Linked DNA regions of Homo sapiens. The gene in region 2 interacts genetically with the main gene of each other region. Each region holds a gene or a part of one and is shown on either strand. Other genes may lie near its edges. The genes, in order: NAA50 and CEP63.

The links.
Region 1: changes in CEP63 (region 2) and NAA50 together harm fitness more than expected from each alone (negative genetic interaction), as found in Homo sapiens cells (one large-scale study listed by BioGRID).

What each region holds. Positions count from the first base shown.
Region 1 is NC_000003.12:113,715,773-113,719,245, reverse strand, and holds the end of NAA50 (N-alpha-acetyltransferase 50), read left to right. Parts: 3' UTR 1-2,788; downstream 2,789-3,473. UniProt on the Homo sapiens protein: N-alpha-acetyltransferase that acetylates the N-terminus of proteins that retain their initiating methionine. Has a broad substrate specificity: able to acetylate the initiator methionine of most peptides, except for those with a proline in second position.
Region 2 is NC_000003.12:134,492,543-134,496,369, reverse strand, and holds part of CEP63 (centrosomal protein of 63 kDa), read right to left. Parts: intron 1,075-3,827; coding exon of another isoform or gene 1,050-1,074; coding exon 1,006-1,049; intron 1-1,005. UniProt on the Homo sapiens protein: Required for normal spindle assembly.

The DNA.
Region 1 (3,473 bases), about 21 Mb from region 2:
TTAGCTTTCATTTGGGGAATGAAGTTCTGAAATATCTAAAGCAGTTTACTCATCAATTGAAAAGTCCTCCAAAAAGAGAACTATTGGGAAACCATGGTGTGGTGGTGGAAAAGAAAAGCTCCCTCAGTTTTTTGGAGGGAATAACTTAAAAAAATACTTAAATGGCTAAGTTTACTTGGTGCAGTTAAGAATTAAACTTGTCAATTTTAACATTGCTGTTACATCTGAAATAAACTTATGTGATGTTCTGGTAGTGATCTGTGATATCTGTAAATGTCAAAACTGTATTGTTGAATTCTGCAGCCAGCAACCGTACATACTCATTGTGTAGTGTTTCCCTTACTGCTTTTATTTACTTTCACATTTAAGATCTAATTTTAAAATCATTAAAATAGGCCAAGTGTAATTAAGGCATCCTAATTCAGATCTTCTGTGACTTGCTAGGTACAGTGCCCAATATCTACAATTCAGTTCCAATGAGAGGGAAAAAGTAAGATCCAAGGAACTGTCTTGCTGCTGTATTTTTAATGTAATTATTAGAAATACTTGACACTTTAGGCTGCAATCTAGTTAGTAATGTTTATTGGCTACAGACAACATATTCAGGTGTTTTGTTTTTCTTCCTTGTAAGGAAGGAGTACGGTAGTTCAATGAGTTGGGAATTGGCTTTTAAGCTTTTTATCAAACATGAATTTAAGATTTTTTCTTTAACAGAATTCAGTATTTAATATTTCTAGTCAAAATTGTTATAATTAGATTTTTGCTTTTTTCATTTAAGAAGCAATGAGTGATCCTTGTCTAGTGTGTCTCAGTTATTACTGTAGTTTAAAACAACAAACAAGTATTACCTTCCACAGTTCTGGATCAGGAATCTAGGAGCTGCTTAACTGGGTGGTTCTGTCTTGAGATCTCAGAAGGTTGCAGTCAAGCTGTTAGCCAGGACTGTACCATCTTGAAGCTTGACAAGGCTAGAGGAGCCATTTCCAAGATGTCTTGCTTACGTGGCTCTTGGGCTTCTGTTCCTCACTGTGTGGGTATCACACACAGTGCCTGATGCTCACGTGGCTCTTGGGCTTCAGTTCCTTGGGCACCAGTTGCCTGGTGGACAACTGGTATGTGGCTTCCCCTAGAGCAGGTGATATAAGAAAGTGAGCAGAAACCATACTTTTTTATGACGTAGCCTCAGGTGACATTATTTCTGCCATATTCCATGAGTCACACAGACCAACCATTGAATCAGCTTGGTATAGTGTGGGAGGGGACTGCACAAGGATGTGAATACTGGGAGGTGGATATCATTGGGCCCTCTAGGAGACTGGCTATCACTGCTCAGAGAAGATGCTGGGCTTCGTTGACTCCCAAGGTCAGGGTAGTTTTGGTTAGGTTGTGTTTTATTAGTCTCTAAAAGGAGTAGTTTTCTAAATGAGGGTTATAAAGCACTGCACTTTACAGTTATTCGGGATATAAAAGAAATAGTGGGTCTAAAGGCTGTGCTCTTGTGGTTGGGTTTTCAGTGGGGAGGGGAGACTAGTCTGTCTCAGACTGATGCTGTTCTCACTGATTTGAATATTTCTGGGAAATTGGATACTACAGTCACAAATAGGAACAGTAAGCCTATAGAAGTTTTTCAGGGAGTAAATATTTTCTATGGCAGTGTCCTGAATTGGTTCTCCCTTGCAAGACTGAACTGTAGGAACTTAGTCCTAGTTTATGATACAGCCAAGTAACATAGTCACATGGGAAAAAGAGCTTGAGTCAGATTTCTTAATGTGTGTTGTTAACTTGGTAGAACATTGAGAATTATTTAAGTCAGAGAACGATCTGTTACTGGGGCAGAAATTCTCAACCTTTTCAGTTCTCCAAAATTTAAGATACTTGATTTCTTAGGTAAAATGTTTTTGTTTTTGTTTTGGAGACAGAGTCTCGCTCTGTCGCCCAGGCTGGAGTGCAGTGGCGCGATCTTGGCTCACTGCAAACTCCGCCTCCCAGATTCAAGCAATTCTGCCTGAGCCTCCCAAGTAGCTGCGACTAGAAAGCGCATGCCACCACGCCTGGCTAATTTTTTGTATTTTAGTAGAGATGGGGGTTTCACCGTGTTGCCCAGGCTGGTCTCAAACTCCTGAGCTTAGGCAATCCTCCTGGGGCAGCCTCCCAAAGTGCTAGGATTACAGGCGAGCCATGGCGCCTGGCCAGTAAAATGTTTTCTATCTAGAATGAATCAAGGTATTTTCCTTGCTCAGTAGCTTCTAGAATAAGAAAAAAATAGCAGCAAGATCTGATTCAGAAATAGTTGGGAGCAGAAAGTTAATATGAAGGAGTTGCTACTTGTTAACAGCCTAGAGTTGAGATCTAGAAGAATTATTACCTTTTTAAATTTGTGATGAAAGCTTAAATCCAGCATTTGGGAAGTTACTCTATTGGCTGAACTATTTTGGAGTTTGTAAGCTTTGTATTAGATATTCCTGATTTAACTGAAACTAATTTGCCACATAGCTTTAATTTCATCCCAGTTTTACTTGTTTTACTGTCCTCAAAAACTCAAGACATCTGAACTCAAAGGATCTAAGCAGTATAAATTAAAGCACATGTTGAATCACTGTAGCTTTCGTAGGACATCTGATTATAATGCTTTTCTTTGTTTCTTTGTCCATACTGAACTTGTCTAGTTTATCTTTGAGAAACATTTGCTAGTATCAAAAATCTTCTGTAAAGATTTGAACAATCTTGAATTCTCCTTGTCACTAGCCATCTCTTCCCCTAAAGTATAATAAAACTGTCAGGTACTATATGTGTAATTGCTTATGCAGGTGAAATTTGAATACACAAACAGTAAATCCCAGTTCTCTTAGTAAGATGAAGGCTTTGTTATAGCACCTTTAAAACAATTTTATAACATCCTTCATTCTTATCACTTTCCTAAGTAAGAAACGATCTTCCTTTAGTGGATATAAAAGTTGTACATTGTTTCTGCAGATTTACTGGGTGCCTACTATTCTGAACTCTAGGGATACAGCAGTGAGCAAGGCAAAAAATATCTGTGACTTCTTTAAATAAAGGTAAGTAAAATTCTAGTTTAAGCAGAATTCATGTCTAAGTGCAGGTCATCCTATTTACTAAAATGAATCAGCTCCTTCAAGGATCTTGATTTTACCTTAATTTTGAATTCCCTACATTGACTTGTTTTCTCTAACATTGGCTCCAGTACAAACAAAAAGCCTTAATTCCCATAGGAGAACTGAGACTTACAAGTGGGAAAGGGAGTGCAAAACAGATACAAGTTCAGAATTTATACAGCAGAAACAATCTAACATTGTAGAGGTTCTTTTTTTTTTTTTCTTTTTCTTTTTGAGACGGAGTCTTTCATTCTATCACCCAGGATGGAGCACAGTGGCGCAATCTCGGCTCACTGCAATCTCCGCCACCTAGATTCAAGCAATTCTGTCTCGGCCTCCTGAGTAGCTGGGATTACAGAC
Region 2 (3,827 bases):
CAACATTTACATATATTAATACACTATTATGTATGGTTTGCAATACTGACTGACTTGTGGAGAGGCTTGAGCCTGTATGCCCATGGCTCTGACTATTGAGTGAACTGGTAGTACTAGGGGGAAATGCCTCCTTGGGAACTCCATGTAGCTTGTGGCTTTTATGACTGAAATAGCATCAATAAAAGTTTGCTCTTGTAGAAAAGACACAAACATGTATGGACCTGGTTATGTCTGACTTTGCACCACTCACAACACATATGATTCAGAAAGCACACTATTGGGTAATCTATCCAAAGGAAAGGAAATCAGTATGTGAAAGGGATACTTGTACCCCCATGTTTATTGCAGCATTATTCACAATAACCAAGATATGGAATTGACTTGAGTGTCCAACAGCAGATTAATGGATAAAGAAAATGTCAGAAATATATCCATCATGGAATACTATTCAGCCATAAAAAAGAATGAAGCCCTGTTATTTGCAGCAACATGGATAAAACTGGTGGTCGTTAAGTGAAATAATAGGCACAGAAAGACAAATATCTCATGTTCTCATTCATATGTGGGGTCTAAAAAAGTTCACCTCATGGAGGTAGAGAGTAGAACGATGGTTACCAGAGGCTGGGAAGGGGTTGGGGGTGAAGAATGTTTGGTTAATGGGTACAAACCATACAGTTAGGTAGAAGAGTAAGCTCTAGTGTTAAATAGCACAGTAAGGTGACTACTAAGTAACTAGTATGTAACTAGTTAAGTAATTAGCACAGTCGGGTGACTAGCACAGTAAGGTTCCTTAAACTTTAAAAATTTACTATATATTTCAAAGTAGCTAGAAGAATTGAAATGTTCCCAACACAAAAAATGATAAATGCTTGAGCTGATAGGTATACTAAATACCCTTATTTGATCATTACACATTATATGTATGTATCAAAGTATCATGTGAACCCTATAAATATGTAATCATGTATTAACCAAAAAAATTAATTTTAAAAAAAGCAAACTTACCCACCATGCCCTCGATTTTGTATTCCTTCTAACAAAGCCTCCATCACCAAATCCCCTTTGTTTTGGCAACTGACAAAGAAAAAAATATCAGTCATGAGACAATTCATTTCTTCAGTTCTAACATTCTAACTTACAACTTAAGAATGTGAATGAAAGCATACATAATAATGAAAAAATGCAGCACTTCTTAAGATGACTGTAGAAGCAGTCAAAGAACATCACTTCAGGAATACTAGGAACAAACTATTTCGGACTAAAACAGAATAACTTAAAAATATCTGAATTGCGGTTGACACTCTCTCCGTGTAAATATCAAATATCTCATTGTTCTTTGCCTAATTCCTAATGTCGGGTGAGCAGGGGTGGAGGTGGGATCTCTCTAGCAGACGGATACACAAACTCCCTTAACAAAATGAGAAAGAAATGGGTTCACACATGTCAGAGGGAAAGTATAGCTTTTTAAAAATTAAAGAGATAGTATAAAAAATGCGAAGTGTACTGAGATTAAACTCTTTGGTCTATCATGGGAAAGCCTACTCACTCCTGAAGACAGGCTCATAGAGCTTCCTGCATGCAACATCCTCTCTCCACCGAAAGGCAGCCACAGGGCCCTCCCACCTCTGCACTTCATTTGCTCCCAGTGCTTAATACGTTCTTTCATAGGAGTTGCACCACACTGGAAGTGAGTTTTTTACATACTATTTTTCCTTACTAGACTATTCATCCCTCCAGGGCAGAAACCCAATTTTATTCATCTCTGCAGCTGCAGAGCTCAACGCAGCATTTCAACATGGCACGTGGCAGATTATTTTGGCTGAACTTAACTCCCCTCCCTCTTTTACCTACCCTCTCCCCCATGCAAACTGGTCACAGCTGGGGAACTACATGAAGGGTCTAGCAGAGAAAGAGGGAACGGGAGATAGAAGACTGCCATATAAACAGCAAGATACAGTTGGGTGCGGTGGCTCACGCCTGTAATCCTAGAACTTGGGAGGCCGAGGGAGGCGGATCACCTGAGGTCAGGAGTTTGAGACCAGCCTGGCCAACATGGTAAAACTCCGCCTCTACCAAAAAAAAAAAAAATTAGCTGGGCATGGTGGCATGCACCTGTAGTTCCAGCCATGGGGAGGCTGAGGTAGGAAAATCGCTTGAAGTCGGGAGGCGGAGGTTGCAGTGATCCGAGATCACACCATTGCACTACAGCCTGGGTGGCAGACAGAGATTCCATCTCAAATAAATAAATAAATAAATAAATAAATAAATAAATAAATATAAAATAAAGGGTAAGATACACCATGAAGAAAGGTGACAGTGAGAAAGGAAAGAGGACCCTTAAACTCAGTAGTGTTGATTAATATGTGTATGCTTCTCGCCTTTTATAATAAATCTTCAAAATGTTCAATGTCAAACCACTTTTCATTCCAAAATGCTTTTTCCTTAAACCCTTAAGACAATAACCAGACTGTGGTGTAGAGGTTCTGCCCCTGGGCTAATCCTCATCTAAAAATTATACTGCTGTAAGAAGTAGATTATTTTACTCAACACGTAATTCAATGTTGTACTAACAACTAGATATATAGTGATGAAAGATATGGCCCCTTTCAAGGTATTAATAGTCTAGTATGGGACAGAAAAAAATGAGCCAAAAAGGCTTTCCCAGTGTGATAAATATAGTGAGAGACATGCCCAGGGTGTTCCAGAGACACAGAGGAGAATGAGAAGACTGGAAAATAGAACCACTGCACCTTATTTGCATCTATTTTTAAAGATACTAACAAACTGAGTATTAAATTATTTGTGCACAAACGTGACAGGGAGGATTTTTTTTCTAGTTGGTTTATCCTACATATTACACCAAAATTGCAAAAATAAAAACCTAAAGAAAAAGGTTCCCATGTTTTACTCCACTTTCAAATCACAATACAGTCCAACTACAATGCAACCAAGATTCCATGTTTTGGTCCACTCTAGGAGAACTGGGAGGCAGTACACGGTCCACACCACACTAGATGGAGACCCAGGATACAGTCCTACTCTGCAACTAACTAGCTTTATATTCTCGGACTTGTTTTAACATCTGCAAAATGAGGGGCATGAACAATATTCTCTAAGGTTTCTTCCAGCTTTTTCATGGGTTCTAACAGCCAATTAAATGTCCACTGTAAGTAGCATGCTCCTGACAACCATACACGGATACTTAACTAACATGTAGGAAAGTGCTATTCTTATTGACAGTGCTATCACAGTTATTCAAAATTATCATTAGTAAAATTATACTTATTTAGGTCATGTTATTCTTAAACATTAATATATTTAGTAATATACATTAATATATTTTCTATGACTATTTAATAATATACTTAGAAGTTAAGTTACTGAATGTTCAACAGCTGCCTTGTACACATTGTCTAAATCAATCTTCACTATACTCATAAAAGACAGATACTATTACTTTGAGAAAACAGGCTTAGAGAGTTAAATAACTTGACTATGATAAACTAAAAATTATAGTCCTGGATTCAACCTAGACATTGTGGCAATCAATTGAGTCACAATCGATGTGCAACCTTTATATATTTTACAGTATTCTATATCTTAAAATATATCAGCCTATCTTTTGGCTTAATAGTGTCTTTGCAATAAAAAAAGAAATTAAACTGAAGTATGACATCACTACTGTGGCCACCAGGTGGCAGCAGCACAATAATGAAATAGTCACATAAGAAATATTGCTATTTTAGAAATCAAAATGGTCTAAGATAGAGATTCCTGTTTAAAAAAAAAAAAAAAAAGGAGGGAAGTGGACCAGTAATATCCTATGT